2 separate regions of the Homo sapiens genome follow, and region 1 is linked to region 2. The links come from fine-mapping of genetic effects on gene expression. A gene starts in region 2. The other region holds a variant in brackets. All regions are shown on one strand. Distances are between the middles of the regions.

Region 1 (15,996 bases), 180 kb after region 2:
CATTAAGCAAATGTTTGAGTCATTGTCTCTGTCTCTTTAATTCCTCGGCCTATGGAAATGTTCTTTGGCTCATTATCTAAAAGGAGAAGTTCTGTCATTACAAATGGAATTGAGATACATAATTGAGATACGGAATGCCCAAGTCAAAGCCAGAGACTGGACTCCTTTCCCCGCTCTTCCTGTGGACATTTTGTTGAAAAATTCTACGGTGACTTTGACTTTTCTTCCATTTCTTTGTCACTGGCTTAGTGAGAACAATCTCCAGGAAGATCTCTTCGACCAGATCTTGGCTGGGAAGCTGGAGTTTCCGGCCCCCTACTGGGATAACATCACGGACTCTGCCAAGGTACCCTCCAGGCCTGTTTCTGTGGGTTGTATTACGTTGTGGGGTCCTCACCCATTGCACAGGGCTGTAGCTGCGCTAGGTATTGCATTCCAGAAAGCTCCTTGGCTTTTAATGTGTGGTTCTTCTTTTAAGTTTATCCCATGGTATGGTCTCTGAAGTTCTTGGCCAAATTCTTAAAGCTGGACTGGCCATCTTTCCAGTTTCCCTCCATCCTCTTGTGCTCCTCTAAGTTCTCAACATCCATTATTTCATTTACTCAAGAAATATGTATTGGGCACCCATCAGGATACAGGGATGAACTTGTGAAACACACTGAATTGCCAAAAGGAAAAATACTGCAGTTTTAGACTGTGGAATAATAACAATGACCAGAACTCTTAGGTGAAAACATCTTAGTTTCACATGGACTCAGGAGAGACTGTCTTTTCTTTTGCACTGCTTATAAGGCATTAGGAGAGTAGGTATAATCACGTTTAGGTTTGAATCAGTTAGCAGCTGTGCTGGCTCTTCTCTGAAGTGCTTGCCACAAACTCAGATTTCTGTATTTATGCTGGAATTACCTCCTTTCTCCTCCTCTGTGGTCTGACTTGTTTGTTTATTTGTAGGAATTAATCAGTCAAATGCTTCAGGTAAATGTTGAAGCTCGGTGTACCGCGGGACAAATCCTGAGTCACCCCTGGGTGTCAGTAAGTACCCACATTCCCAGGGAATGGGCCTCACTGTGCTCTGTGGCCAACAGCACGGTTCCTCACTGTGATGTTTGCACATGCAAAAGTTATGCATCCAAGCTCCATGGTAGATGTCTGTCTGTCCCATTGAGCAAGTAGCATAAAGATGGCTCCCCAAGAAAGCAGTTGGCACTAGGGTCCCAGTCTTAGACCCTGCCCCGCGAGTCACCTGGGCAAGTCACTGTCCCTTTCTTGGCCCCAGTTTCCTTATCTGCAAAATGGAATTGGCCACAGTGCTCCTTCAGGAGGCTTTTAGCTCTCGTCTTCTGCGGTTTGGGGTTTGAGAGTTTCCAGGGTTTGCCCTGGAGATGAGCCTGTTTCAGACCCTGACCTTTGTGCCTTCAGGGAACGTGCTCTCAGGAGACCTCTTGCTGTTGATGGGGAGGCTGAGACAGGATCGCTTCAGAGCTGAGTGGAGACACATGATATTGACTAGAGTTCCCTCCCAGAGGCTCAGGTGGTCTCTGGGAGGGAAACATGATCCAATAAATGGGGACTGTGGGAATTACATTTCTCCCATTTCCGTCATTTCTGGGAGGCTCCAGGAGAGTGAAGTTAGTTTAATTAGCCCAGGGCTTTGTTGACTCCGGTTGGGAAGCTCCCTGTGTACCTCCAATGCCCCACCCACCCACCATCCAGGTGCAGTTTCTCTGGACCCTGCTTGCTGCTCTCTTGGGCTAAATGACGTGGTTCTTGGACCAAGTAGCTAAGATACCACATTTTTTTTTATTATAAGCAATAAAGACTAACAACTAAATGAATTCTTGATTAAAGTGAAAAACAATGATCTTTGATGCTTCCATGGGAGGGATCATACTAAATCGTGTGCCTTGGGTGAGGGTCTCAGTAGCCTAAAGTGTGTCCTGCTTTGTGTCCCGGGAGACCTGTGCCCTCTCCTGGGCCTACTCTAGTCCTGAGGGGCAGAGGGAATGGTGTGGGGTCTTTCTGAGGGCATGGGCCTACTGAATAACAATAGTTATTTTTGAAAGATCATTGTTTCCCTAATTCTGTGGCTAAGAGGGGCCCATTTAGGAAGAGGTCAGGAGGGTGGTTGAGGCGGGGAGGGGGACTCTTAAGGAAAAGACAACTCAAACGGGAGGATGGAAAAAGCATTGTATTTGATTGTTTTCTTTCCTGTAGGATGATGCCTCCCAGGAGAATAACATGCAAGCTGAGGTGACAGGTAAACTAAAACAGCACTTTAATAATGCGCTCCCCAAACAGAACAGCACTACCACCGGGGTCTCCGTCATCATGGTGAGTGGAAGGCGGCAGGTCTGGCCTGACTGCGGAGCCGGCCTTGAAGTTTTTGAATTAGGTAGCCGGGAGCTGCCCTCACATGGAAGTTGGTGCCTTCCGTAGTCCTATTTCATATGAAGATTGGCTTGGCATGTGGAGGGCACTCATTCGGCAACTCCCAGGCTTTGGGCACTGTGTGGAGGGGCTTGTGTAGGGACCAGCAGGCCTGGTGTGAGGGGTCCAGGCGTCAAGGAGCTCCTGGCTGGGCCCTCTGGGCAGCTGCTTCCACTCTTGTCTCTGCCTTCTCATCTAGAGAGACTCCCAAGCCCTGGAGGGGTGTGTTGTGTTAGGAATTAACTCCCTGCCTACCCCAAGGCCTCAGAAATAGATTATTAGAGATGTGAATTATTCTTTGAGACTTGGGATAAGAAACAGCCAAAGCTAAACATATTTCAGTTTTAAAAAATCAGTGTTTTATAAAACACAGTTTGGGGCTTTTAAAGGTACATAATCAAGGAAAAAAATATATATTCATTTTTCAGGGTTGGTAACATTTTATGAGATGTCAGTGACAACGATGGCCTTATTTTTTTCAGCCTTTTCTTCTTCCAAAATGTTTCTTAAGGCAACTCTCCTAAATACATAAACACAACAAATTAAAATGAAAAGTGACATGAGAGTAAATGAATCAAAAGGAAAAAACATTGAACCAGAGGTGAGGGCAGCACACCCGCAGCAGCTGTCCAGGCCTGAGCCAATGCAACCCTGGGCGGGAAGGCCAGCTCACCGTGAGCAGGTAGAAGCCAGCCAGCCACCCAGGCAGGGACCTTGGTTCTCCCCACACACTCCCAGGAGCAGGGAACAGGGGTGGAGTGGCCTTTCCCAGAGCTGGAGTTGGCTGCAGCAGCTTTCGAATCAGACCTGCCAAGGTGATGGGCGTCTGAGTTTCACATCTGGGCCCCCCGTGACCCCACTGAGTCCTGACAGCTAAGGATGGGCCACCTCCACAGCTCCGTCACTCGTACTTGGGACAGGCCTCTCATCCTCTGGGAAGGTCCTCCTTGTTTCCTACCCAACTAGAAGGGAAACAGTGGCATATTCTCATGGTACATGGTTGTCTGAGAGCCTTACCTAGGAAGACGCAGGGTCTAGATAGAAGCTATAAGGAAGCCACACACATAACCCACATCCCCACACCCCCAACATCCCCCACACTCCCCACACCCCCCACACCCCCCACATCCCCACACACCACAAATCCTCCACACCCCCACACCACACATCCCTCACACCCCCCACACCACACATCCCCCACACCACACATCCCTCACACCCCCCACACCACACATCCCCCACACCACACATCCCTCACACCCCCCACACCACACATCCCCCACACCACACATCCCTCACACCCCCCAACACCCCCACACACCCCCCACACCACACATCCCCCACACCACACATATCCCCCACACCCCCCACACATCCCCCACACCCCCCACATCCCCCACACCCCCCAAATCCCCCACACCACCCACATCCCCCACACCCCACACATCCCCCACACCCCCACACATCCCCCACACCCCACACATCCCCCACACCCCCCACACCACACATTCCCTCACACCCCCCACACCACACACCCCCACATACCCCCACACACTCCCATCCCCCACACCACACATCCCGCACACCCTCCACACCACACATCCCCACACACCTCACACCCCCCACACCCCCACACAACCCACATCCCCCGCACCACACATCCCCTACACCCCCCACTCTACACACCCCACACCCCAACACACCCCACATAACCCCCACATACCCCACACCCACACCCCCCACACCCCCCACACCCCCACCCCCCACATACACACCCACACACCCCACACCCCCACATAGCCCACACAGCCTACACACCCCACACCCGAACACACCCCACATACCTCCACACACCCCACACCCCCCGCCCCCACGAGCGTGCAGCACTCTGTTATATGCATTGAGCATACACCAGGTACCCCCACACACCCCCAACACCCCCACACACCCCACACCCGAACACACCCCACATTCCCCACACACCCCACACACCCCACGAGCATGCAGCACTCTGTTATATGGATTGAGCGTCCACCAGGTTCTCAGCACCCACTGGGCCGTCATTCTCTTCTGTCCCCCGGCTGCGTTTATGTGGCCACCCTCTGTGTGTCCTTGCAACTCCCCAGCTGCTCCCCTGCCAGAAAGTGTGCTCTCCCTCTCTCCCTCTCTCCCTCTCCAGACAGAGCCTGGGTTTGCAAGCTGAGTCTTTTGATGGCTTGCAGGACTTTGGGGGCGCTCTGTGCCAAAGCAGTGAGAAGGCCTTTTGAGTTGTGGTTTCCCTTGAATTTTAGCAGTGTTTTGCTGAAAGCCTGAGAAAGTCAGAGTTGTCAAAGAATTACAGCTTAGACACTTTGAAAAGAACCATCTTGATTGAGCCAACAGCATGAGAATGTTTCCAGCGATTCCCTTGCGAGAGCTAGCATTGATGGATGGGCTCAGTGGTACACAGTCTTGCTGTGCACTGCGTTGTAAGGCAGCTTCTTGGAAAATTTAGAAAAATAAAACATTAAAAATTGGCATACTCAACGTGTCATGAAAAAACCTTAAGAAGAGAGATTGGTTAGGATCAAAATTTAATAACCATGTTAAGTCTTCTGAGAGGAAGAACCTTTAACCGCCCTGTGCCCAGGGCTTAGGAGAGTTTGCTCGGAGACTGTGAAGGGAGTCATTGCTGGGGTCACTTTTTGACTCAGGGGCCCAGATAGGAATCAGTGGCCATAGGCCTGTGCCCGGCCTCTTTATGGCTGGCTCTCAGCTGACATTCTGGAATGATTAGCTGTTCTACAGGCTCTGTCCTAGATAATGACGCTTAGACCCCCTCAGACAGAACCTATGTCGTGTGGTTTACAAATACCATTTTCCATTTGCTGATGAGGAGTTCAGGACTCAAAAGACAAACCCCTGGGCTCTGACAGGGTGTTTGTGTGAACAAACAACCCGTTATTGTTTGCAGCTCTGATGGTGATTGTAAATGTTGTATGTTTATGTGTGTTCAGTTGTCATTTTGCGCATGTTGGCAGGGTGTCCCCTCTAACCCCATGTTACCTACACAACTCTGCAGGCTGTTAGCTCAGAGGAACTGCTGATGTCATGATCCCATTCAGTACCTACAGGGAAATTCAATCAGTCTTGCCTCTGGTGGCACCCATTCTCGATGGCCAAAACACCAGCCTGTGACTTTTGGGCTGTCCCAAAAAGTGGGAGGGGAAGGCCTGCTGCTGATCCTCCCCTGGCGCAGGACCTGGTCTGGGGCATGGTTGTGTGGGGGAACTTGCGATGCTGCTGTATTGTCCTCCTCGTCCTCCTCATCCTCCTCGTCCTCCTCATCCTCCTCATCCTCCTCATCCTCCTCACGTCACTGTGTGTCCTGTCTTCGGAACAGTTTTAAGTGTTTTTACATTAAAAATAACCTCAAAATGACTCTCCCTGGTACTCATAGGTCCTCATAACTGAGACTGTGGGGCCAACCTGGTTTTCTGCAGATACAAATGATAGTGGAAATAGTGTCAACCGTCTGGAGGTTGAATCATCAGATAACTTACAGACAGGACCTTCCCATCTGCTGTCACCCTAGTGTTCTCATCCCCAGAGCTGGGGCCTGAGACTTCAGTGAGAAAATGATGGGCTAGAAATTGGTCCATAAAGGTGAAAAAAAAGTAAAGTTGATGGTGTTATCTGCATTTTGTTTGACAGTTTGATTTGACAGTTTGAGAGGCACCTCAGAGTTTCCTTCTTTACCCCGCTGAGACAGTGGGAGAGCCTGAAGCAGAATCCTGGTATTCACCACGCTGCGTCCGACCAGCGCGCCCCATCCTCAGCCCCTCTCACGCCTGCATGCTTGTCTCAGTTTCTGATGCCGCCGTCCGGCTCTCAGCTGCTTACTGGTGTGGGTCTTTTGTACCTACTCACATCCTTTCCAGCCAGCCAAGCAGGCCCCTGGAAAACTTTATTTTCAAACTTCTCAGCTTACCACACTGCCTGCCTTTCCAGACCAACAGCTGGTGAGAGCACGGGAGGAGTCCCATAGTTCTCCTACCGATGCTGTTTCCCACTTAGGTGAAAAGTGGCTTTTCGGAAAGAGCAGCTTAAGATGGTGCCTTCGTGAAGGCTTTTGTTCTTTCTCCAGCTGCATTTCCAAAGATGAGTTTGTATCAGTAAGTGTAATCTCAGCCAGCCTTTGGGATAAGAGAAGATAATTTAATGGGTGAGGCCTTGGTTTCAGGCAGGGCTGAGGTGTGGGATTACAGTTCCCATTTTCTTGGACTTGTCCTTAGCATGCGTAAGAAAGGACAGAGCAGGGTGCATGCAGGACGGCCTCCCATGTACCCCGGGGGGCTCGCCCCAGTTGCAGAGACCAGGAGAGACCATCTTGTGGTGGGAAGGGAATGCCGAGAAGCCGCCGTCACTCGGCGCCTGCGGTGCAGACTTGAGAAGGGACGGATTCAAGGGCATTGCCTTCTTCGCTGGGGGATTATGCCTTGTTTCAGGGGGAAGTTGGGGAAGGATTTGGGTTTATTGCCTTAATTTAAGATAGACAAAACTGTTTCACTCGTGTTGCTTCTGTTGAAAGTAAGTCTAGTTTCTGTCCCTGCTTCTCTCCTGCCTTCTGCCTCTCCCGCCGCCTGCATTGCTTCCCTCTGGCTAGGTCCAAGGCCATGGTATGTACTAACCGCACTGCCAGCCTGCCTTCTGCCACACACGCCCCTGTGCTTCTGACAGGAAGAGAAAAGGAGAAATAACGGGGGGATTGTTTTCTTGTACCCAGGAGACATTTTGTGGTAGGAAAAACCTGTATGCTGGCTCTCTGCTTCCCATGTAGGTGGGAGCATCTTTTAGTGGAGTTTTCCACAGTTACCCTTTCTCCAGGTAGTTGAAATTGTCCTTGGAAATTGTAGGGATTTGGGGAGTTTTGTTTATTGAGACAGGATCTTGCTCTGTTGCCCAGACTGGAGTGCGGTGGTGTGATCCTAGCTCACTGTATCCTCAAACTCCTGAGCTCAAGCCATCCTCCTGCCTCAGCCTCCAAGTAGCTAGGACTACAGGTGCACGCCACCTTGCCCGGCTAATTTTTAAATTCTTTGTGGAGATGGAGTCTCTGTGTTGCCCAGGCTGGTCTCAAACTCCTGACCTCAAGTGATCCTCCCTCCTTGGCCTCCGGAAGTGCTGGGATTACAGGTGTGAGCCACTGCACCCGGCCAGAAATGGATGACTGTTCAGCTTGAACTTGTGAGGGCCTGTGGAGAAGCAGCCATTCCATAGGTGGCCCCAGGTGCCCTGAAGGCCGCCACCCAAGTTCATCTTAGAAAGCCCTGTTGTTGATTCTTATTTTCTCCAGACTTTTTTTGTTGTTGTTAAAGTACTGAAAGAATCTTTAGTGCATTTTCCCCTCTCCCTCCCCAGGGTAGTTAGATTACAAAAGGCCTCCTGGCAATTGTCCCTTTCAGCTAAAGGTGCCTGGGAACTGCCATCTCCTTCACTTTTGGGAAGCCCATTGAGATGGCAGCTTGATGGGCTTCCCTGGACAAGCAGGAAATAGAGAAGGAGAAAGCAGGACCGGGGTCCCTTCCCCAGCCAGGCTTAGAACGCAAGGTGACTGCCTCACATCTTTGTGGCTGTTTCTCTGTTCCTTGAAGAGCTGAGCAGATTTAAAAACTTTCAGGATGTTTCAGGATAAGGAAGCTTTGCTTCATGTGAAGAGAAGACAGGTGAGGATATCATGGAGGATCTGAAAAAAGAGTAATGTGGCTCCATCCAATTCCTGGGCCTTTTATAGGCTTCACAGCATCTCAGGTTGTTAGGAGGATTAATTATTCACAGGACATGCGGGTAACTTTTCAATCTGTGACAGAGAGCTTTATTTGGAAGAGTAAACTCTCCAAGACTGAGCACCCTTGTAAGGTTTGCTTATTGTCTCAGAATTCTTTTGAGCTTAAGGTCTGGGCTTGGGCTGAAGGGGTGAGAACCCAGGCACAGCCCAAAGCGAGAGAAGACGACAGACATCCAGTGTGTCCTGGGCTGCCAGCCTGGGTCAGGGTAGGAGCAGAGGCCAAGGACAGCCCCTTCCCCCGGTGGGTTCCCGAAACCATTACTCTCCTGTGAGGCTTCTGTTAGAAGCTTGGCGTTATTTCTCCTCTTCTGTTTCTGAGGCCCGTGCATGCTCTGTTGTGCTCTCTGCTCGTGGCAGCTGGGACCCGAGCCTGGGCCCGGGTAATGTGTTGTCTCTGCTGTTTCCTCCTCAGAACACGGCTCTAGATAAGGAGGGGCAGATTTTCTGCAGCAAGCACTGTCAAGACAGCGGCAGGCCTGGGATGGAGCCCATCTCTCCAGTTCCTCCCTCAGTGGAGGAGATCCCTGTGCCTGGGGAAGCAGTCCCGGCCCCCACCCCTCCGGAATCTCCCACCCCCCACCCTCCTCCCGCTGCCCCGGGTGGTGAGCGGGCAGGAACCTGGCGCCGCCACCGAGACTGAGCCTCCTGCAGACGGGCGAAGCCGCCTG[C/G]TGCAGCCCAGGAAGCCAGCCCTCTGCTCGGCCTCGCCGGCCTCCCTGCTGCAGGCCTCCCTCTCTTCACCGCCTGCGCCTGAGTTCGCGGGTCCTCCGCAGGCCGCCTGGGAACCGGAGCCTGGCGTGCCGGAGCCTGGCCTGGTGCTCTGGGCTCTGCCTTCTGGTTCCTGGAGGCATCAAAGGCTGCATCCGTTCTGCCAACAGCTGTTCGGAGAGACTCGTTCCAGATCATCCCGTCATTTTCAGTTTGTTGGACATTTTACAGCTTCACCAGGAGAATGTGCAACTTTATTCCAGCATTCGATGCATTTTTATAGAAACACTTTGGAAACACTTTGGATGAACCAAGGCCTTTTCCTTATTTAAGTAGACTCAGAACACTCCCTTTCTTTTCTTTTCTCTCTCTCTCTCTCTTTTTTTTTTACGAAAGACTTAGAATTGCATTTGTCCTTTTGTGGGTGTCCTGTGAGAGGTGATATGGGGGCTAAGAGGACTGGCTTTCTAATAGAAGAAGTGAGCGCCTGAGAGGACAATTTGGTCATTGGACACGGATTGCAGGCTTTGAGAAGCGCTCAGAGGCCCAGGGCGGCGGGCTCAGCCATTCGGCTTGGGGCACCAGGCTCCCCAGAGACAATGCTCAGTATTCATTCATACACAGACGATGGAAGAAGCCACTTCTTCCCTGGGCGGTGTGGGTTTCCCCCAGCTCTTCCCACACGTGTGTTAGGAAATGCCCGTGAACTTGCCCTCTGGGCTTTTTAATGAGAGGCTTGGCGCATGCGGCACCCAGCGGCTGCTTCCCTGCAAGCCAGCGACTTGCCGAGCAGAATGAGCTCTGCTCCTGAGCCCCGGTAGCTGCTTCCTCATCTGCATTTCATCTGGAGCAGGGCAGGTAACCACAGGAGGAGGCATGCCCGAGGCAGCCAGGACTGGGCGGGAAGGTGCTCCCTGGATATACTCTGTGAACCTTCTGGAAGGCTGCTGGCAGTTTTTCCTTTTTGTCCACCACCCTGCTCTTTTTAATAATTGTACATAATCCGTGTATTTGTTTTACCTGCTCATCTTCTAAACTGGCGAGCCCTATAGTTCGTTCTCATTGTTAGATTTTGCCTTTTACAAGTGTCCCCAACCTGCAATAAACTTTTCCCTCTTGAAAAAAAGTAATCAGGGATGGGCAAAGGTTTCTGTGCTGTTGTTTGGCTAAGGATGTATGGGAGCAAAGTTCTCCTCCTCGGCCCGGGTTCCAGCGGGTGCCAGTGGCTGTTTTGCAAAGTCTCAGGGCCACCCGGGGAAAAGAGGAAGCTCGGGGAGAACACACATGGAAATGAATCTTGGTTGAAGTTTGTCTGGTTACAGGTGCAGAATGGGCGTGGTGGCTCAGGCCTGTAATCCCAGCAGTTTGGGAGGCCAAGGTGGGTGGATCACCTGAGGTCAGGAGTTCCAAGACCAGCCTGGCCAACATGACAAAACCCCATCTCTACTAAAAATAGAAAAACTAGCCGGGCGTGGTGGCGCATGCCCATAATCCCAGCTACTTAGGAGGCTGAGGAGGGACAATCACTTGAACCAGGGAGGTAGAGGCTGCAGTGAGCTGAGATCGTGCCACTGCACTCTAGCCTGGGTGACAGAGTGAGAACCTGCCTCAAAAAAAAAGACACATCACAAAAGCTCAAGAACAAATGGTGTGCTTGGTGTGCGACAGAGGAACCTTATGAAGCAGCAGCAGGAAGGGCAGAGAGTTGGGGCAGTTGTTCCCCTGTCTCTCTCTGAGGTTGTGTGGTCTCCTGTCTCTGCTTTTTCCAGTGCCTTGTCAGCTACAGCTTTCTCTGCAAGACTCTTGTTTCTGTCCCCTCATAGTACCCACTTACCTGTGGTTCAGGTTACCCTGGTACTGCCTCTGTCCGCAACTTTTCAAGGCTTTATAATCCCAGGGCTTGAAACCATCTAACTTGACTCTGGATCTTCCAGTTCAGATTGCTGAAGGAATGAGTCAATCTCAAGGGCCAGGCGATACAATGAGTTCTGGGCTGGTGCTGACCCCTGATCAGGTCCAGAGGTTGGCCACAAGGTGCGGTGGGTTGCGGGCTGGGGGAGCGGGCGGCGGGCTTCCTAGGCCCACAGCTGTAGCAGGGTCAGGCTACAGGAGGACGACAGTTTCAAAAAAGCAGTGATGTATAGGTCTAGAACATTCTGCTTGTGCCTCCTCTTTGGTTACAGGACAAGCTTTTTCATAGCTTTCAATAGAAATATTTTTGTTAATGGAAGGGAAGAGCTAATAAAAGGAAGAAGGAGAAAAATGCAAACAGCGATAGAACAAGGCCTCTGGCACTGATCTGAGCCCCAAACCCATTTCCCTCCCTTGAACTGTGAGGTTCAAAGAAAGACATCTGCTAAAGGCAAAATAAGTGGCTGGCCAGTGCCAGTCACTGTCAGGATGCAGGAGCCTCTTCTTGTCGGTACATGCCTCCGCCCTCTGTAAGGATGGAGACCGGAAGTAGCATGAGCTGGCAGGGGCGGCACTGCCTAGCCATCCTGCTAAAATGGTTATGACCCCAGGAAAACCTACAGAAGTATGTGGCGCTAGGGGAGCAAACCAAGAGGTCAAGTCACACCTCCAGGGTAATAGAATTGGCAGGAGGTGGAGCCATGATGCAGTGTTAGCTTTTGCTGACTCTAAAGTGCATGTTCTTTTTGGGGGCGGGGCGGGGGTGACCCTGTCTATCCATGGCTAAATCAAGGCCTGGAGGGGAGGAGCTAAATAAAGGTTCTGATACAGGCAGATTGTTCATCTGCCCACTTGTTTAGCAAACATTTATTAAGCTGTAATTCTGTCTCAGGATCTAAATTAAATACAGGTACTTAAAACTGCTGGGTTCCTCAAATCCTGCACAGAGAGAATGGCATGAACTGTTTCATGTTGATTCCCTTACTTGAGCCGGGCCGAGTCTCAGCCTCTCATTTTCTCTCTCTTCCTCTCACCCTCTCTTTTCAGAAAGGTTGCTATGATAGAAATGTATTGAATATATAAATTGAAGGCATTTGGCAAAACTTCCCCCAGAATATCTTCATGGCTAAAATGGTGAAATGTGAATTAGGAGATGGTGAAGACAGCTCAGGACAGATTCACCATGTTGAAAGCAGGAGTGCTGATTGATGTTGTCTTGGAGAAAGATCTCTAGAACAGTTTGCTGTCCCACAGAAATATGCAAGCCACAGGAGACAGCATTTCCTAGTATCATGTTAAAAAAATTTTTTAGAGAAACAGGTGAAATTAATTTTTATAGTATATTTTATTTAACCTAATATGTCTAAATACATCCAAAGTATTATTTTGGCATGTAATCAACATAAATCACTAGGATGTTTTACTTTCTTTGTTCTAAACCTTTGAAATCTGGTGTGCTTTACATTTATAGCATGTCTCAGTTTGGACAGGGCACATTTCCAGTGTTGAACAGCCACGTGGTTAGTGGCTGCCATGCTGCAGCTTCAGTCTTTGTTCTTAACCTTTTTTTTTTTTTCCCGCATATGATGTGAATAACAACTTAGAATGCTTTCCTGTTTTTTTTTTTTTAATGGAATGGACTCATTTAAAAGGATCTCAGCAGGTGAGGATACTGATCCAAACCCACGGTGTAGAAGTGAAGTGTGAAGTGCTGTGATTCAATTCTGTAACTACCCAAGGCAAGGCCCTGGCCTGCAGCACGGCTGAAGATCTGGGCCTGGAGGATTTCAATGACCGCCCAGTCGTTAGGAGCCAACACAGCTGCTTGAACATTAGCATAATCTTAACTGTGTTATGAGAAGCACGCGCAGATCCCAGGCAGTGCTAGCTGGGGATGGAGTTCTGTTCTGGGGACCTTGTTACATGTGGTGCAGAGCAAGAGCAATGATCACCCGACAGAGGACAGCTGGAGTGGTGAGGGGGTGTGAATCCTGGCAGCCAAGGACTGGTGGAGAAAACTGTGAGGTAAGAGGAAAGTCGAGGCACATTTGCTCAATGTCTTTGGCTGTGTAAAGGACTGCTCCATAGAAGGGGCACAGCCTTTTTTTAGTTGCTCTGGATGGTCAGCCTGAGGTCAGCAGGTAGGGGGCACAAAAGGTCAGATTTAAGGACAGAGTGAGAGTAAGATTCTAGTAACAGAGCAGTGCAGTCACAGAATCAGCTGCTTTCTAAAGAAGAAGATCATGACAATCACACAAGTTTGCAGCTTATGGAGTATTTCATCCTATCTCATTTGAGATATGCCACAGCCCTAAGAGATAGATATTAATATCCTTGTCTAATAAATAAGGAAATGGAATGGTCAAGAGCTTCCCCAGGCAGGGCAGGTGCCCCATGACAAGGTTTCCTCTTTTGGCAGTCAGAGATGTGTTAGGAGTGCTGCGTGTGTAAGACACAGGTGGGGTGCGAATTCATAGGAACATTCACAGTTTGGCTTTTAACCTTGCTGGAGGAGCCCACTCTCTCAAAAGAGATGGCTTGCCTGGCCAGGCACGTGGCTCACGCCTGTAATCCCAGCAAGGCGGAGACAAGGCGGATCACCCGAGGAAGGCAGTTCAAGACCAGCCTGACCAACATGGAGAAACCCCGTCTCTACTAAAAATATAAAATTAGCTGGGTGTGGTGGCGCATGCCTGTAATCCTAGCTACTCAGGAGGCTGAGGCAGGAGAATCGCTTGAAACCGGGAGACGGAGGTTGCGGTGAGCCAAGATTGCACCATTGCACTCCAGCCTGGGCAACAAGAGCAAAACTCTGTCTCAAAAAAAAAAAAAAAAAAAGTTGCTTGCCTAAAGGCCAAACCACCCTTCATTTTCTACCACTTTGTCAGTGGCTGAGAAGTTATCAGAGCAGGGGCACTTATTTAGATCAAAGTCAGAGAGTGGTTTTTCCAGAGGGAGGCTGACATGTGCAACTTTGGTGAGTCTTGGCCAGGGGGTTCTAAGGGGCAATCTTATGATAAAAAACAAAGCCTTGAACTCAAAGACAGCTGTGGGAAGGCCTTGCCAGCATTGAATGGCTGAGGGGAAGAAAAGCATATATTTGATACAGAGACAGTCATTGGCCCCTACCATGCCCCTTCAATTTGGGCAGAGCTGGGCACCACAGGCCTCCAGCACCATCAGGCGGGCTGAGTCTGTTGCATTGCGAGGAGTGGTTGGATGCCTGTCTGTGTTGAGGCTGAAGTTAGTTCCGGGGATGTCTTTCAAATTATCCAAGGCCAAAGCTGCAAAGCAGCCAGCTTCCTGCCAGGTATGAGGAAGGGACAAGCCTGCCCAACTCCCTGGAATCTTGGTTTTGGCAAGGAAAAATATTCCTGAATTTGAGACAGAAAAATAGTTCACTTCATGTTTCTGGCATAGATCACCAAGATCTCATAGGAGCATTCACAGTTTGTCTTCTAACCTTGCTGGAGGAGCCCAGCTCTCTCAAAACAAATTGCTTGCCTAAAGGCCAAACCACCCTTCATTTCATGAGAGAAAAATGTGATGTGCCTTGCTCTGAGCAGTCTGCGGTTCTGGTTCATAGCAGCCAGGGCTGGGAGTGATGTGTCAGTGGTGTTAACAGTAGTCTTGGGTCTTTAGCGATCTTATGACTATAGAGCATGCAAGAAGTTCATCATGGACTCAACTTTTCAAGTCTATCTAAAAGAAAAATCCAAAAGATTTTTCTCCCACTCACCTGAGAGGAAGTAGAACTTTAAAATGGTTTGTTTGGCTATTTATGTATTTGCTACTTTATGGTCTTGCCCTTCCTTCTTACAAGTAGGAAATTTTGAAACTTCCCAGCCTCCTTCCCCTGCAAGGATAACTTGTGAAGCCTATAGAATTAACAGTGGTTCAACTTTATGCTACACAAAACGGGGGTAAGCTGGGCTGGGTGTTCTTCTGCTTGAAGTAGGAAACGATTTCCTTCCATGTGGTAGGGCAAAAATAGCCAAGTGGAGGCACTAGCACATTTGCTCATGTATAGGTTATGCAGATTTTGAGACTAAAGTTACATCCTGCTTCTGTTTGTGAACATACTTTGGCCTAATGTGATTTCATGTGGGGCTATGGGGCTAATCCATAGTGAACACACACCAGGAACTGGTGAAGTTTCTCCACCTAGCTCAGTGGTGGCTTATTCCAGCTTTTAAATGAAAGACACTTCTGCATCTGGATCCAGGAGGAATCTGTTTATATCATGGGTCAGCTGCCTTTTTTAGCAGGGATGGAGAATGGGGCAGGACTGTCACATTAGAAAGGACTAAACCAGGCCTTTTATTTGCATGGCTGGAAGCTCTTGAGATCACAGCCAGTAACAAGATACCAAAGAAACCTACTGAAAATCTCTACCTCAACCACCTTTCATGGTGAATCTAAGCTGCTGCAAGCTGTTGTATTTGCTAAGAAGGGTACAAAGTAGGTGCAGTGGCTACATCCCAGGTTCCCTGACCATCTCCTGCAAGCTTGACTCACACAACCACTGCCATCTCACTGTCCCTCTGACAGGTGTAGGAGGACATGTGACACCAAGTGTGTGGTTGGCCCCTGACCCTCTGGCTCGGCTGCTCTTAGAGCGAGTGGAAAGGGCGACCCCGGGTTGTCAGTTCCTGACCTCATGCCCTGCTCACGGCTACTCGTAATTCCTGTGCAAGACACTTGGAATCTTCCTGTTGTGTATGCTAAGCAGAAGTGAGGTGTGATGTTTCTCAATGGATAAAATAGCTCTTTTATTGAAGTAATTTATGAAAACACTGATTTTTGGTGTACTTTGGGAGTAAGACACTGTCATCTGAGAGTGTGTTGTCTACACGTTTCTATCGATGTTTTTCGGATGTTCATGTTGTCTCTTAGCTCTCCTGCTTTCTCCCACAGATCTAATGGTATTTCTTAAATGACAGCATCTCAGGGACTTGATTGGTTATATTTCAGTAAGAAACAGTATGTCAGGGAGGAAAATCTTAATTTCTGGAGGCAATGCATCTTAAACCAGCCCTCAGTTACTGTACATGGACCAAGCACAGCCCATCCAGCCGCATCTACTCACTGTGCAGACGCACTGCTCCCTCTGTTGTGGTTCCCTT
Region 2 (15,996 bases):
ACTAAGATCCTAGGGGTTCATGGGCTTATCACTAAAGGGAGAATGCCCAAGGAGAAAAATATTATTATTATAGTAATAATAATAAATAATAATTATAATTAATTTTAATACTAAAATGAAATGTAGCTTTATATCATAACCAAGTTATTAAAGATGAACATATCAGTTACATTAAGATAAAAACAATCAGGTAATCACATGCATATATCTCTTTGCCTTAAGTGTTTAATCTCAGATACATATATATATTCACACACACAGTGTTTCTGCTGTATCTTTCATACAAACGGTAAATCATGATCAATTAGTTATTTCAGATAGGGTGATAGGACTCTGGGAAGTACCAATGAAAAACTAAAAAACAAAAAAAAAAACTAAATACATAGCCAAATGAGTACAGATTTGCTAAGGAGTGTTGACTAAAGTCTGAGTAGATCCTTATTCCCATTAATAAGATATATATATTTTAACATTTGACTATTTCAAATATGTGTGTGTAGGGTATACAGAATGTTTGTCCTAAAATAACCAGATAATTTGCAATATAAACTTACTGTAAATTAAAGAATCATTAATTTTAAGCTATAATTCCTGAAGAGACAGACATTCTTGTGATTAATGAATTTTGAAAGCTTGAAGTGAACATTTTCTGGAGTTAGCATACCCTGGAGGCAATTTCTATCTCTGCTGCTTAATCTTTCTTATTTCCTTGTCTATAATCTGTTTCCTTAACTAGGTCATAACAACTTATTAATCATTATAAAATATTTATTATCCTTTAAGTACTCTTGACCATCATTGTTTTAATCTGATATGTAGAATGACATGAACATAGTTTGTCACATTCAGTATTTGTATAAACATTGAAGGTACTACCGAGAGGAGAAAACCACTAAAATCATGATCAATTTTAACAAAAATAATTTTTTAAAATTTTAAATGAAGCAAAAAACCTAGATTTAAAGATTAAATTTTATATTGGGTTTGGGAAATTTCATCCTACAGAAACAAAATGAGAGTACTGTGGTACTTTTCATGATCTTTCACTTTTATGCCTAGATTTCCTCATCTGGAAAGTATGAATTCTACTAGTTGCCCAGATTTTCTTCTTACGAAGATTTAAGAGGAACAAATTCAAATTCCTAAGAAAAAAGTTGCTATATGATTTTAAAGTTGTTATTTTTCATCAATAATTGTTGCATCTGAACTGGCAAATGACAAAATAAAAATATAATTTTGAATATATAAAATTTACATGACATATAAATTTACATTATATGTATGGAGTCTTTGTCCTAGACACTTTATGGAAGTTTACCATAGAAAGAATCAGAATTTTCTCATGGAAAAAAACAGTAGTTGTGTGCCATATATATTTAAAGCATGCATATTTGATTATTTTCTTCAATTCTTCTGATATTTTCATTTAAAAATTAAACTTACAATTTTTTTTTTCAAGAACAGAGTCTCATCCCTCTGTCACCCAGGCTGCAGTGCAGCTGCACAATCACAGCTTGCTGCAGCCTTGACCTCCTGAGCTTATGCAATTCTCCCACCTCACCCTCTGCAGTAGCTGGGACTATAGGCACGCACCACTGCGCCGGGCTAATTTTTTTTTTTTTAATATTTTGTAGAGATGGGAATCTTCCTATGTTGCCCAGGTTGGTCTTGAACTCCTGGGCCCAAGTGATCCTCCCGCCTCAGCCTCCCAAAGTGTTGGGGCTACAGGCATGAGCCACAAGCCAAAATTTAGATTTTCTGAAAGACTTAACCAAACAGGTACATTCAAATTTTTTGAACCTGAAAAGGTAGTTTCAATTATTCCCTCACTTATTTGTGAAGAAATCATTAATATCTATGTAAAGTGCTACAAGAATCAGGGGTGAAAAGGACAACGAAGCTCCAAAGGCAGAAGAACTATTGAGAAAACAGTTTGAGCCTTTTTTCCAGTCTAGGTACAGATTATGGGGTAGAGATGGAGAGTCTGCTTTTGAGCTGCCTTACCTTATACCCTTCCCCATTAAAGCTTAACAGAAAGCACTAGAACTTATAATTATTAAGATTGAAATGAGAATCATGCTTAGTTTCAAAAATTTAAGTCTATAGTCACCGGGTGCTCTCACTTAAAATAGTTTAGTTATTTCATCATTTTTTACTTCTGGGAGAAATTCTTGGCACATAGTGAACAGGAATGAAAACATGAGACAGCAAAAAGTCTCAGCACAGTGCAATCTGAAAGGTTCAGAGGCATCCTTTATGTAATAAGTAATGGAGTCACTGGAAAACTGCCTTTAAAAACAGAAGTCTCTTGCCAAAAGTGAAGACTAACCATAGCATTTGAGGAATAAAGCAGCATGAGGCAAACACCAGGAAATGTTCAAGGCAAGTTTCTTATGTAAAGACCCATAATGAAATATTTAATAAAGTCTCATTTAAACAAATTATGCTAGATAAAAATTTGCATTGTATTTCTTAGTCAAGGTGGAGTGGGGTTGAGGGAGTAAGCAGGAGAGGGAATTACTACCTGGCTAAAAGCAGCTCTAAAATTGTATCACAGGTGTGTGATACAAAGAGAAGTGTAGAGAACAAAGAGAACAATTTCTTTTCCTTTATGCCCAGTTGAGTTTCTCTGCCCCAAGTGGTTTGTAGAAGACCCTTCTTGCATACTGCCAACAAAATTTTCACATCCACTAGATATTCCATGATTTATAAGTATTATAAATAAAAAGCAAAAGGGGTCATTTCTAGTTACACAAAAAGGGGAGAAGAGTTTTTGGGCTGAAATTCTCCAATGGCCTTTAGCAGAAAAATGAAGCCTTTTTAAAAATACTTGGCACAAAAGTTTTTATTCAAGTAAGTGTTAGGTTAAGGGGAGTTAAAAAGAGGGTTTTTCTAACAACACTTTTTACAACCAAGAGACATCTAAGGTTAAAGTGGGCTTCCAGATAGTGAGGAGGCATCTGTGGCCAGCTCTTCCTAAAGAAGCTCCTTAAATCAGGGTGTGGCAGACAGAGTTGGTGGATCTTGTAACCACCAAGAGAATTAGACCATCTCTGGAAGGACCAATGATTAATAATCAGATGGCCTTTCTTCGTTAGAAAAAAATGAGTATCTCAACAAAGAAAATGCCCATTAAAATGTCTTACTCTGCAAATTCTGCAACTGCATGAAAGGAAAAAAATCTGCTTCGGTTCTATAAATTGAATATCATGAAGTAAGCCAAGTTAAGTAATAGTTGCCTACCTAGAACCTACAAATTTTGTTTGCATTAGAATTTGAATACTGAAACTAATTTTTTCCTACCTCAACAAATCTTCAAATGTTGACCAACTGGGTCTTTATATCATATTTTTTCATAGATACCTTATGAAAAGTGATTGCATCTCAATTCTTATAAGAGGATCACAAATAAGATTCTTCAAGAAAACAAGTGTGGAGAGTAGGATCAAAAAAACATTTTTTAACTAAGTAACAGCTTTGGAAATACTTTCTCTTTTCCCCCTACCCCTGTTGAAAAGCAGTAACCTTTCTTTAACTTAAGGATATAATGTTAGGGAATAATGTTAAAATACTGGCATATTTTTATTTTTTTAAATTTTACTTTAAATTCCAGGATACATGTGCAGAATGTGCAAAGGTATACATGTATACGTGTTCCAAGGTGGTTTGCTGTACTTATTGACCTGTCCTCTAAGTTCCCTCCCCTTGTACCCCACCCTCCAACAGGCCTTGGTGTGTGTTGTTCCCCTCCCTGTGTCCATGTGTTCTCATTGTTCAACTTCTACTTATGAGTGAGAACATGGGGCATTTGGTTTTCTGTCCCTGTGTTAGTTTGCTGAGGATGATGGCTTCCAGTTTCATCCATATCCCTGCAAAGGACATGATCTTATTCTTTTTTATGGCTGCATAGTATTCCATGGCGTGCATGTGCCACATTTTCTTTATGCAGTCTATCACTGATGGGCATTTGGGTTGGTTCCATGACTTTGCTATTGTAAACAGTGCTGCAGTAAACATACGTGTGTGTGTGTGTCTTTATAGCAGAATGATTCATATTCCTTTGGGTATATACCCAGTAATGGGGTTGCTGGGTCAAATAGTATTTCTGGTTCTAGATCCTTAAGGAATTGCCATATTGTCTTCCACAATGGTTGAACTAATTTACATTCCCACCAACAGTGTAAAAGTGTTCCTATTTCTCCACAGCCTCGCCAGCATCTACTGTTTCTTGACTTTTTAATAATTACCATTTTGACTGCCATGAAATGATATCTCATTGAGGTTTTGATTTGCATTTCTCTGATGATCAGCGATGTTGAGCTTTTTTTCATATGTCTGTTAGCTATGTAAATGTCTTCTTTTGAAAAATGTCTGTTTATATCCTTTGCCCACTTTTTGATGGGGTTGTTTCTTTCCTTGTAAATTTGTTTAAGTTCCTTGTAAATTCTGGATATTAGACCTTTGTCTGATGGGTAGACTGCAAAAATTTTCTCCCATTCTGTAGGTTGACTGTTTACTTTGGTGATAGTTTCTTTTGCTGTGCAGAAGCTCTTTATTTCCATTTGTCAATTTTGGCGTTTGTCGCAATTGCTTTTGGTGTTTTCACCATGAAGTCCTCACTCATCCCTATGTCCTGAATGATATTGCCTAGGTTTTCTTCTAGGGTTTTTATGGTTTGGGGTTTTACATTTAAGTCTTTAATCCACCTTGAGTTAAAAATACTGGCATATTGTATAATTGTACTCACTATTTAAGAAGGGCCAAATCTCTTATCAAGGATCTTTGAGTGAGGAAGTGCATGTTAGTGTTCTAAAGATTGAAAGATTGAAACCCGTGGTACCAGTCTGCAAGATGACCCCAATAATTGCTGACTCCTAGTCACACCCTAGTGTAGTCTCCTCCCACATCAAACAGGGCTGCCTTGTGTAACCTACAGGATATTGTGGGAATAACAGTGTATGACTTCCAAGGCTATATCATAACACACATTGTGGCTTCCACCTTGTGCTCTCTTGGATGCTTTCTCTAGAGCAAGCTTGTCCAACCCATGGCCTGTGGACTGTACACAGCCCAGGACAGTTATGAATGCAGCCCAATGCAAATTCGTAAACTTTCTTAAAATATTATGAGATTTTGTGATTTTTTTTTTTTTTTTAGCTCATCAGCCATCATTAATGTTAGTGTATTTCCTGTGTGGCCCAAGACAATTCTTCTTCCAATGTGCCCCAGGGAAGCCAAAAGATTGGACACCCCTGCTCTAGAGGAAGCCAACCGACAAGTCATGGTGACACTTAAGCAACTCTATGGAAAGGTACTCATGACAAGGAACTGAGGCCTCCTTACCATTCATGTGAATGGGCTGTCTTGGAAATGGATCTTCTTGACCCAGTCAAGCCTTTAGATGGCTGTGACCCCTGTCAACATCTTGACAGCAATCACATGAGGCTTTGAGGTAAACTGCTCCCAGATTTCCGATCTGCCAAAAATGCTGAGATTATGCATGTTTATTGTTGTAAATCATTAAGTTTAGGATAATTTGTTTCTACAGCAATAGTTTACAAAGTCTTTTTCCCCCTAAGAAATACTAACAGTGATACAAATGAACATGGCCATCTTAAGGCAAGTTGATGGGCTCTGTGGAGTTACTGGTACTTAGATGGAAACTTATCTCAATAAATTTGCAATTTAGTTTCTTGTTTCTCAAAGTCTTGTACCAAGACCAGCAGCATTGGCATTACCCAGGGGCTCATCAGAAATGCAGAATCTCAAACTCCACCCCAGAGCTACAGAATAGCAATCTGCATTTTAACGAGATTCCCCTATGACATGTAAATATATTAAAGTTTGAGAAGAAGCACTGATTTATTTGATTCCTGGTGTTACAGCCTGTGGTTGGAAACTCTGGATATACCTTAGGGGTACTTTTAAAAAAATACTGTTGGAGAAGCCCGTCTCCAGAAATTCTGATTTAACTGATCTAGGTTGAGGCCTTTTAAGGTGGTGGACCTAATGATGCTGCAGGATTTTCCTCTAGAAAAACTACATTGAAGCCTCAGATCAGCTCTGACTTCCTAGCATGCCCCAACCCCGCAGGAAGTTAGGTATGCCCAGGTGTATGCCCAGAACTGCCTTAGGAGTAGTATTGTGCACCGAGCAGGAGACCTTTCTGGAGCTGCCATGAAGGGTGTGTATGCGTGTGTGTGCGTGTGTTTGGTGGGGCGCACCAACTTCACAGATGCTAGACCGTTGCATGTGCTTCTACCTTCTTTTATTCATGCTCTTCCAGGACTCAGTTCAACCCGAAAAAAAGCAACTATGCCTTTCTTCCTGAAAGGTCAGTTTGGATTGCTGTCTAGGGCTGCTCAGAAAACCAGGTGTTGAATGTTCTAAGGTTTCACGTGCCAAATTGGGATCAAACATATTTGAGCTTTATTTTTCCTAATAACAAAATGCAAGTAACTAGTATTTCTCTTAAGTCTTGGAAAAGATGTTTTTATTGTTGAATAGACACTACGGCATTAAGATTTCCACTATGATGGGTGCTCACAAATGATAGGCCTCTTAGGTAAGAAGCTTTAATTGACAACATTAAATATGCGGGGCGGGGGGAGTGGGTGCAGAGTCTCTCTTTCCTTTGTTAGGGCATCCCAGTGACAGAAACAATGCCTGACACATGGTACGCTCTCGATAAATATTCGTTGATTACATAACCCCCTCTACCACCCAATAACTTCTCATCATTCATTCAAAGTTACTGAACGTACCATATTAGCGAATCTGCAATGGAAACAGTGGAGGCTGTTTTCTCAAAGGATTTTCTAATAAAGCAACAAATCTTTTTTAAAAAAAATGAATGGTGTGCCCCAAGTCAATGCTGGGCTTCGGATTTCTGCGGTAGTTTGGCCTGGGGTCCTCACTGGGATGCTGGCTGGGGATGTGCTCCCTGCCCTTGAATCTCCTTCCTTTGTAGTTTTTGGCCTGCGCGGTTACGTTTCCCAGGCGGAGGAGCGCGCGTCGCGGCTGCGCCCATTAACGCGCGGCGCCGGGCAGGAGCCGTCAGGCGGGCGGGGCTGCCCGGGACCCGCAGGAGCTGCTCCTCCCGCGCCGGCGCTCGGCCCCCTCCTCCGCCCCCTCCTCCGCCCCCTCCTCCCCTTCTCCGCGGTTTGGCATCCCCGGGGCCGGGAAGCCTCCTCCAGCGCTGACAGCCTGTCGGCGGCGGAGGGAGGCCAGAGCGCGGATGCTTGCCAGTGGGCCGGGCCTGACCGCTGCGTGGGAGGCGGGCTGCATTATTTCCCGCTAGGGCCGCGCTCCAGGGAAGGAAGGGGCCAGACACGGCCCTCTCAGCCCCGAACGGCGCGCGCTGCCCGGCGGGCGGGATCCGGGCGCGGCCGAGGCGGCGGCGCTGCACCCCGGGCCTGGGCCCGCGCGACTCCCCCGGGGGCCTCTCCCACGCTCCGCGCCCCGCCCCACCCTTCCTTCCTTCCTCCCCTCGGCGCTCCCGGGAGCGCTCGGCAGACGCCCGAGCTTTGTGGGCGCCCGCGGGCCCAGCGCGAGCCTCGGGCGGCCCAACTTTGCCTCTCCCGGTCGGCTCCCGAGCGGGACTTGTGAGGCGTGGCCGGGTGGAGGAGGCGCTTGCGGGGGCGTGGGGCTCCCCGGCAGGCGGGAGGCACGGAGCAAGTCGCACTGGACAATGACCTGGGCAGCTCGGCGCTGCGGACACTTTTAGCTGAGGGCGCGGGCGGGTCGGCTCCTCCGCGGCTCCTCGGCCCCACCTGCGCGGAGAGGGCGGGATGCCAGAGCCAGGTGTCCCGGCGCGTTAAGGGCCCTCGCAGTCAGACGTCCCTGCACCGGCGCTCGCACCCTTAGTCGGCCCGGAACGTCTTTTTGCGGACGCCCTCGGAGCAGCCGCGATGGCCAGCACCAGGAGTATCGAGCTGGAGCACTTTGAGGAACGGGACAAAAGGCCGCGGCCGGGGTCGCGGAGAGGGGCCCCCAGCTCCTCCGGGGGCAGCAGCAGCTCGGGCCCCAAGGGGAACGGGCTCATCCCCAGTCCGGCGCACAGTGCCCACTGCAGCTTCTACCGCACGCGGACCCTGCAGGCCCTCAGCTCGGAGAAGAAGGCCAAGAAGGCGCGCTTCTACCGGAACGGGGACCGCTACTTCAAGGGCCTGGTGTTTGCCATCTCCAGCGACCGCTTCCGGTCCTTCGATGCGCTCCTCATAGAGCTCACCCGCTCCCTGTCGGACAACGTGAACCTGCCCCAGGGTGTCCGCACTATCTACACCATCGACGGCAGCCGGAAGGTCACCAGCCTGGACGAGCTGCTGGAAGGTAGGAGGGGAGGGCGCCGCACGGCAGGTGCGGCGGAGCGCCGGCAGGTGCAGTGGGCGTGAGCCGGCGCAGCGGGGAGCCCGCGGGGTGCTTTCCAAGCCGCACGGGAATTGATGCTTCTGTCTGCTTCTCTAGAGATTGGCTGGGGGTGGGGGCCGGTGGGGTGCCCACATACACACTGACTTTCCTTCCCAAGAGGTTTGTCTCTTAAAGAAGGAAAAAATTTCCTGATGGTCAGGCCAATTTAGGCACTGGTGGCATCTCCTAAGATTGTTGAACTTATTTGTATTGAAGTGCAAACTGTTTGAGAAAATGGTTCTCCCATGGGGAGCTGGGTAATCCCCTACTAATAAGCTCTGTTGGACCCTCGGTGTGGACCCTGGTGCAGGCTCCTGTCATGTTCCAGTATTCGGGGTCCTGTTGTGACTGCTGTCAGAAGCTGTGGTTGTGAAATGCTCTAGGTTGGCTTTCCTAGTTTGCCTTGCAGCAGAAGTTACTTGAGGTGAAGAGGGATGATCCTAGACAGCAGGTCTCAACCTTGGCTTCATCTTGGATCACACTGGGGACTTCGAAAAATATGGGACCCTGATCCCCCAACCCCCAGATATCCTGATTAAATTGGTTGGGTTTGGGGTGTGGGTTAGGCGTCTGGAGTCTCAAAAGCCCCCCCCCCAGGTGATTCTAATGTGGGACCCTGGTTAACAATCACCGTGCTAAAGGGTTTTCCACATTTGGTTGGAAAAAAGGTAAATCAAGGTCAATCTCTCCAGCCTTATCCTCTAATAAGAGTACCTAATTAGAATGATAGAGGCCATTGGATTCAGCAGTGGGGACTTATTAAAAATTAGTAATTCTGCTGTGTCAACCATGCCTCGGTCAAAGAGACTGCTTGGCTGGATGTTGGGTCATCCTTGAATTCCTGCAATACGTATGCCTCATCCTTTTCAGGTAGAAAAGGCATTATCAGTGGTTAAGAACCTGTTTCCAGTTCTAAATAACATCCAGAAAGACCAGGCAGAACCCAGGTATGTGCTGACTGCGTGTTTACATACAGTCCGCTCTTGTGCATCTTTCTTAATGCAAATGGCACATTCCATGTAGTCATAGCAATAGCTTGGCAGGGAGAGGAAGCTGAACATCAAGCCAGATGTTTTTCTTATATTATCTCAGCATGCTTTTCTGTCCTGAAGGCATTATCCCCATTTTATAGATGAGGAAACTTAGGCAGCATGCCTTGCCTCACAGTGCCTGCAGCATATACTTTCTCGTCTACGATTCACCTCTGCTGAGCTAATGGAGCCACATGGAGGAAAACTAAAGGTCGTTGAGTTTGTCTATTTAGTCAGAAGTTTTTGCTGCCCTGCCTAGAACGCGACCCAGCCAAAATTAAATTGTCTCTTCAGTCTACATATGTATGTGCTTGTGACTTCACCCATTCTGTCAGTTGTGTGTTTTGGTTTTAAGGGCTTCTTGAGGAGGTAAGGGGATAGCTGGAGGAGTATAAGTAAAAAAGGAAGATACAATGTTCAAAGGGCCTTGTTGCTTTTCTTAATCATGTTAAACACTTAAAAGCAATATTTGCCTAGCTATTTTAAAACAGAGTAACCAGTTGTTTGACTGACCCAAGATCAGATTTGCAGGATCAAGGCAATGCCTGTTTGCTTAAGCACTTGTTACTCAACATGCCATTGGGATACTACTGTTCCTGGTATGGTTTCTTAAGAGTCAACAATGTTAATATCCTTCTCTAAAGAAATTTTAACAGTGGATTTACTACATAAAATTGACATAACGTAAACATGAATCTCATAGGAGAGATGATAAGATGGACATTATGCATGTCCATTAATAGGAGTACTTAGTATAGATTGCGTCTTTTACCGCCCACCGCATGCATGTCCACTGGGTCTACTTCTGCAACTGTAGTTTCAACTACAAATTGACTTAACAAATTTCCTTCAAATCATTCACTGATTTTTAGTGGATGGGGATTTGGAAAAAACATTATCTATGGAGTCCAAATCATACCAAAATATGATAAATAATATAACAAATAGTTGCACAGCCAAAATTTTTTTTATGACTTTGCCCACTTCTTTGAAGAAGTTTTTAATACAATAAAATTACTGCAAAAGAAGAAAACTTGGACACTTTTTTTGTCATATGGAACTCTCTCTGACAATGGGTCTTTGTTTAATTCTTCAGTTTTCCCCCAAATTAGTAGAATACTCCATAGCAATGCAATTTTTTTTTTAAAGAAAATATAGGTACAATAGTTCACGTCTGTAATCTCAGCACTTTGGGAGACTGAGGTGGGTGGATCACCTGAGGTCAGGAGTTCGAGACCAGCCTGACAAACAAGGTGAAACCCCATCTCTACTTAAAAAAAAAAAAAAAAAATTAGCCGGGTGTGGCGGCAGGCGCCTGCAGTCCCAGCTACTCAGGAGGCTGAGACAGGAGAATTGCTTGAACCCAGGAGGCGGAGGTTGCAGTGAGCCAAGATCACACCACTGCACTCCAGCCTGGGCGATGGAGCAAGACTCTGTCTCAAAAAAAAAAAAAAAAAGAAAAGAAAAAAAGAAAAAGAATCACGAATGCTTACTGTCAATCATTCCAGAATGTAAGTAGTTTCAACTTTTAATTAAAATTGTGTGCTCAGATTTTTCATGTAGGAGAACTAAGCAGCTATCTGTGAAGTTATTTGCATTAGTAAAAATAAGTCTGTAATATATTCACCACATTGTCAAAATTGACTGCTTTATTTCGTTTTGGTTGATTATTTTTAATAAAGCTCTCTCAGGTAGTATTTTACAACATTATGTTCAACTAGGCTCTACTTCTTCGATCCCATGAAACTTGTAGTTTAAGAGGTATGTTTTTTTCTGAAATGTCTTGAGTGAAGAATAGAAAGTGATGACTCAAAACAGTAGGATATGAACATTCATTCAGAGCCCCAATCTCATTGAACTCAGATGACAAAAGAAATTTGCATGGCCCAAATTATTTTTTCTTCTGCCCTTGACCTTGAGAGTCTCTGGAGACTAAAAGCTGTTCTAGTGTGAGCTGGCACTCCTCCAGCACTACACTAAACCAGCAAGCACCTTCAATTTATTGATTTATCCATCCTTGCTGGATTAAGTTTGAGTTGATGCTGTGCAGTCCTGTAATCCTGTTTATTCTTTAAAACTAGTTGGGGGACCTCTTCCGGCAGGACTGTGGCTCTTAATCAATATTGGAAAAATTAGTTGAGCTGTCTTAAGCTGTGAGCCTGCTGAGCTCAGTATCTGTAATAACCAACAGAGAATGTCCAGATGACTTGTTCTTTAGCTTTCTTATTAGGGACTGATTCAGAATTCCTAGTCTTAGTTCTGTTCCGTGTGTCTTCTCTCCTTCTGAGCGTTTGGTCTTCTCTCCTTCTGAGCATTTTGAAATATTTATAAAGTTTTGATGACCTAAAGAGATATAACCAAGGACAGTAGAAAAAGTGCCTGACCAAGTCAGGATTCCTGAGTTCTACTGACTAGATTTGAGAAAAATTTCACCTCACTTCCCTGGCCTTGGCATCCTTTTCTCTAGGATGAGAAGTTGGCAGACCACCTAAGTTAGGTCTCTTCTGGTTTAAAAATGTGTATGTACCCGTTAATTATCTGAGGGGTTATTGTTGGAGCATATGATGGCTTGGGCTGCCATTCCCTAGCCAGAACCCATCTTCCAGAAAATCGATGAGGCTGCACATGTCCAGATAACAATCACAGAATGGGGTGTATATCTCTGATGAAGTGCTTGCCAAGAGTCAAAGGCATTAAGAGCTACCTGTGTCTGCCTCTCTCATTCCAAAATAAAATGTCATTTTGTTATTTCTACCTTTTATCCCTTCATAAACAATAAGCTGATTGTTTTTTGGCATATGAGAGAGTTTTGGTTATTTTGATAATGATACTTTCATTCCCTCATGAAGTTAACAGGGACATGTAAGAAAAATAAGATTGTAAAGAAATCAAGCCCATGAAGTTTGAGGTCCTCCTACCAAACCTATCTACCGCATCTGTTTGGTTAGGTCAGTTCTTTGAAAGTGTTAAATAAACCAAAATACGTTTCTGAGAATTTTTAAGTAAAAATGAATTTCCATAAGAACCTAGATTATACTTAGTTGTTTTTTCCTGAAAAATAAATTTTATAATAATAGAAACTGTGGAACTTATTATGGTAAGAAGGAAATAAACTCATGAGTTACAAGGTATTTGCACATAGGAGTCGAAAATGATGCACACTAAAGTCATGCATGGTGATTGGACTTGGAAAGTTAATATTGAATTTCAGGGCTGCAAAACGTTCTTTACCTGTGAAACCCCTGGATTCTTCAAGGCCCACTTCAAATAGCACCTATGAAGTCTCTTCCCACTTCTCTGGGCAGTTGGTCTCAAATGGTTAGTTGAGGGCATACTATGTCCTAGACATGGTCAAATGCCTATGGTCTCTTCCTTCAAAAAATGCACATTCTCCTGGGAGAGAGACAGTAAACATACAAACAAGATGGCTTCAGCTAAAGTGCTGTAAATGAAGTGGTGATGACATGGGGCAGGATGGCCATATTGGCCGGGGTGATGTGGAGGGCTTCCTAGAGGAACAGACATTGGAGCCGAGGCCTGAGGTCAAGTTTATAACTTTCCTCTGCTTACAGCATTTTTCTTTACTTCTATTATAACACTTAGCTTTGTAGTCTCATGATATATTGGATCTGTTTTTGCACTCAACTGAGAGAAGCCTGAGGTCAGGGATCTTAAATACAGTAAATTCATTGATTAAATAACTCAGACAATGATTTTACCTCTAAGTCCCTTAGTTGTCTAGGGAAGTTTTGTATGAGTTAAGCTTTAATGGGATTCCTAGATATTTGTGAAAATATATGTTTTTGGAAAATTGGATTACATGTTAGATAAACGTATAATTTTGGGTGAAATTCTGTGCTAACCATTTTGGAGGGAATGACTCTTCCATAATATCCCCTTCTATAAATCTGGTTGTCCCATCTCATTTCCTTAAAAACAAGGAAAATAAGATGTGCTATAATACAGCTGCATAAGAAGCTCTTTCCCGAGGTAAGAGGAAAATTTTCATTTAAAGAATAAATCCTAAAAGGTTGGGGAAGGAAAGGGGATATGTGAGAGAGCATTTATGAGATTAGAGTATGACACAGTGATACTCTGGAAGTTATAAGACAAGATTAATATCTAATGGGTTTTTAAACTATGGAAAAGGATATTTTTATGGTCCTGTAATATGAAATAAAGGAAACCAGATTCTCTTGGGCAGTGATCATCTAACTGCTTTCTTCATTGCTCGTGAGGCCGAGAGGAGTTGCTGCGGGGTGTGTACCGCCTGGCTAGGTCTTTTTTCTGTATCCCTTCCTGCCCATGCTACCACTGCATCTGTGTTTTTATGTCTTCTACTCGTAAAGTAAACCATTACCGTAAGGATTAGAGATGCTTTTCTTCTCTGCATTGCTACCATTTACTAGATGTTTTATGAGCAGTCATTGTGTGAGGTACTTTACATATTTCATCTAACCCTTGTAATACCTTCTGAAATATGGCTGCATTGTCATCCCCATTTTACAGATGGGGAAGCTGAGGCTCAGAGATGGTAGAGAAATTGCTGCATTGTACCAATGTAAGAGGTAGAGCTGGCACTTGAGCCCTTTCTCCCTGGCTTCTGAAACTCTGTGTTCTTAACTACTACATTCTACTACTACATTCTACCACCTGAGAGGAAATGGAGTCCATTCTGTTTGTGGGGTCTTTGGGAGGTGTCTTGGTTCATTTTCTCTTGCTATAACAGAATACCACAGACTAGGTAAGTTATAAAGAAAATTTATTTTATTTTCTAGTTCTAGAAGCTAGAAAGTCCAAGGCACGGCACTGGCATCTGTTGAGGGTCATCCCATGGTGGAAGGGTGGAAGGTGAAAGCAAACGTAGGATATATAGAGAGGAAATGGGGCTAAATTCCCTCCTTTTATAACTAACCCACTCCCACAATAACAGCTTTAATCCATTCTTGAGGGTGGTGCCCTCATGATCTAATCACCTCTTCAAGGCCTCACTTGTTAATATTGTTACAATGGCAATTAAATTTCCAACACCTGAAGCTTGGGAGATGTGTTCAACCCACAGCAGGAGGTGAATAAATCATAAAGGCAGAGACTTCATAGGCTGGATTAGTGCCCAAAGAGGCCCCAGAGAGCTTGTTTTGCCCCTTCTAGCATGTGAGGATGCAGTGAGAAGTCACCATGAGTGAACCAAGAGCCCTCACTACACACCATATCTGTTAGCACCTTGATCTTTGATGTCCTCACCTCCAGAACTGTGAGAAATTGATTTCTGTTTATAAGTCACTCTGTTTTTTGTATTTTGTTATAGCGACTTGAACGGACTAATACAGTCTTCTTTCGCCTCTAAAGTTCAGTGATCTTGGGAAATGCTTCTAGGGGTGGGAAAGAGAAATGATTTTGGCTCTATCTGGCTCCATGTCTTTCTTTGAAAGTTGGCTGGGTACTTGATCAGATGTAGTTACCCAGATTTAGATGGAGTTCTTAAAACACCTCAGTAACATACAGGAGGATCTTTTCCATAGACCATCCTCGTGAAAGGGAAAATTACAAACCCAACAGGGGGTGGGACCACAATTGTCTTGTTTATCCTTTTATCCCATGAAACAAATGCTTCTGGCACGTGGTGTTTTTTTAATTAATTTTACTTTTGTGCCCTATTTAAGATGTTTTAATAGTTGGGTATAGGTGGATGTAGATGCTTTAAAAAACCTTTATTTATTAAGATAGCCAGTTGGACAGTTAGCCAGATTTACAGAGGTAACATAAGTTCATGTTAAAGGCAAATATTCCTTGCCCCTTTGTGTTTCAATTTTTTAATATATTTTTCTTCAAGAAAAATGATGCAGTATATTTATGTCCCAAGAAGTTATCAATTTCACTAGTATCTGAGATTGAGATGTCTGACTTGAGTTTTCTCTTTGGACAGCTATCACAACCAGATTCTTTTTATTTTTTTTTTTTTTTTTTGAGACTGAGTCTCACTCTGTCTGCCAGGCTGGAGTGCAGTGGCGCAATCTCGGCTGACTGCAAGCTCCGCCTCCCGGGTTCACGCCATTCTCCTGCCTCAGCCTACCGAGTAGCTGGGACTACAGGCGCCCACCACCACGCCCTGCTAATTTTTTGTATTTTTAGTAGAGATGGGTTTTCACCGTGTTAGCCAGGATGGTCTCGATCTCCTGACCTCGTGATCTGCCTGCTTCAGCCTCCCAAAGTGCTGGGATTACAGGCGTGAACCACCGTGCCCGGCCCACAACCAGATTCTTTCATATTTATTTCTCGTTATGTGTTTAAATCCCAGGATTATTCTAAGCCCGCTAATATTTTCAGTGTCTACAGGAGTTCTCTGCCATAGCTAAGGCTTAGTTGTGTTCATCTTTAGCATTCTCATTTTAAGCAATTGTTTTTGCTAATTTTTTCATGCTTAATTTTAACACAATCTTAATTTTTTAATTTTGTGAGTCAGAAATAAAATCAAGAGCTTAAATGAATATTCTTTTATTCCTTAAAACATGTTATAATTCAATCCTAATCCCCGGGATATTTTGTCCTATTTGCC

Which allele goes with the higher level. Alleles are on the strand shown, and positions count from the first base shown. SD is a standard deviation of normalised expression in the study named.
With allele C in place of G in region 1, the expression in prefrontal cortex of the gene that starts at base 7,328 in region 2 is lower (small effect, 0.19 SD a copy in CommonMind).

Evidence for each region. PIP is the estimated chance that this variant, and not a neighbour inherited with it, causes the effect.
Region 1: its variant is fine-mapped to the expression of DCLK2 in prefrontal cortex (CommonMind, PIP 0.95).

The regions. Positions count from the first base shown.
Region 1 is chr4:150,247,354-150,263,349 of GRCh38, forward strand. It overlaps DCLK2 (doublecortin like kinase 2), which reads left to right. Exons shown (of 16, transcript NM_001040260.4): 13 at 250-346; 14 at 952-1,032; 15 at 2,215-2,331; 16 at 8,667-10,085. The coding sequence ends at 8,894. Among named protein-coding and RNA genes, the nearest start is that of DCLK2, 180 kb to the left of the region's middle. The variant C/G (reference allele first, on the strand shown) is at 8,923.
Region 2 is chr4:150,071,118-150,087,113 of GRCh38, forward strand. It overlaps DCLK2 (doublecortin like kinase 2), which reads left to right and starts at 7,328. Exons shown (of 16, transcript NM_001040260.4): 1 at 7,328-8,331. The coding sequence starts at 7,911.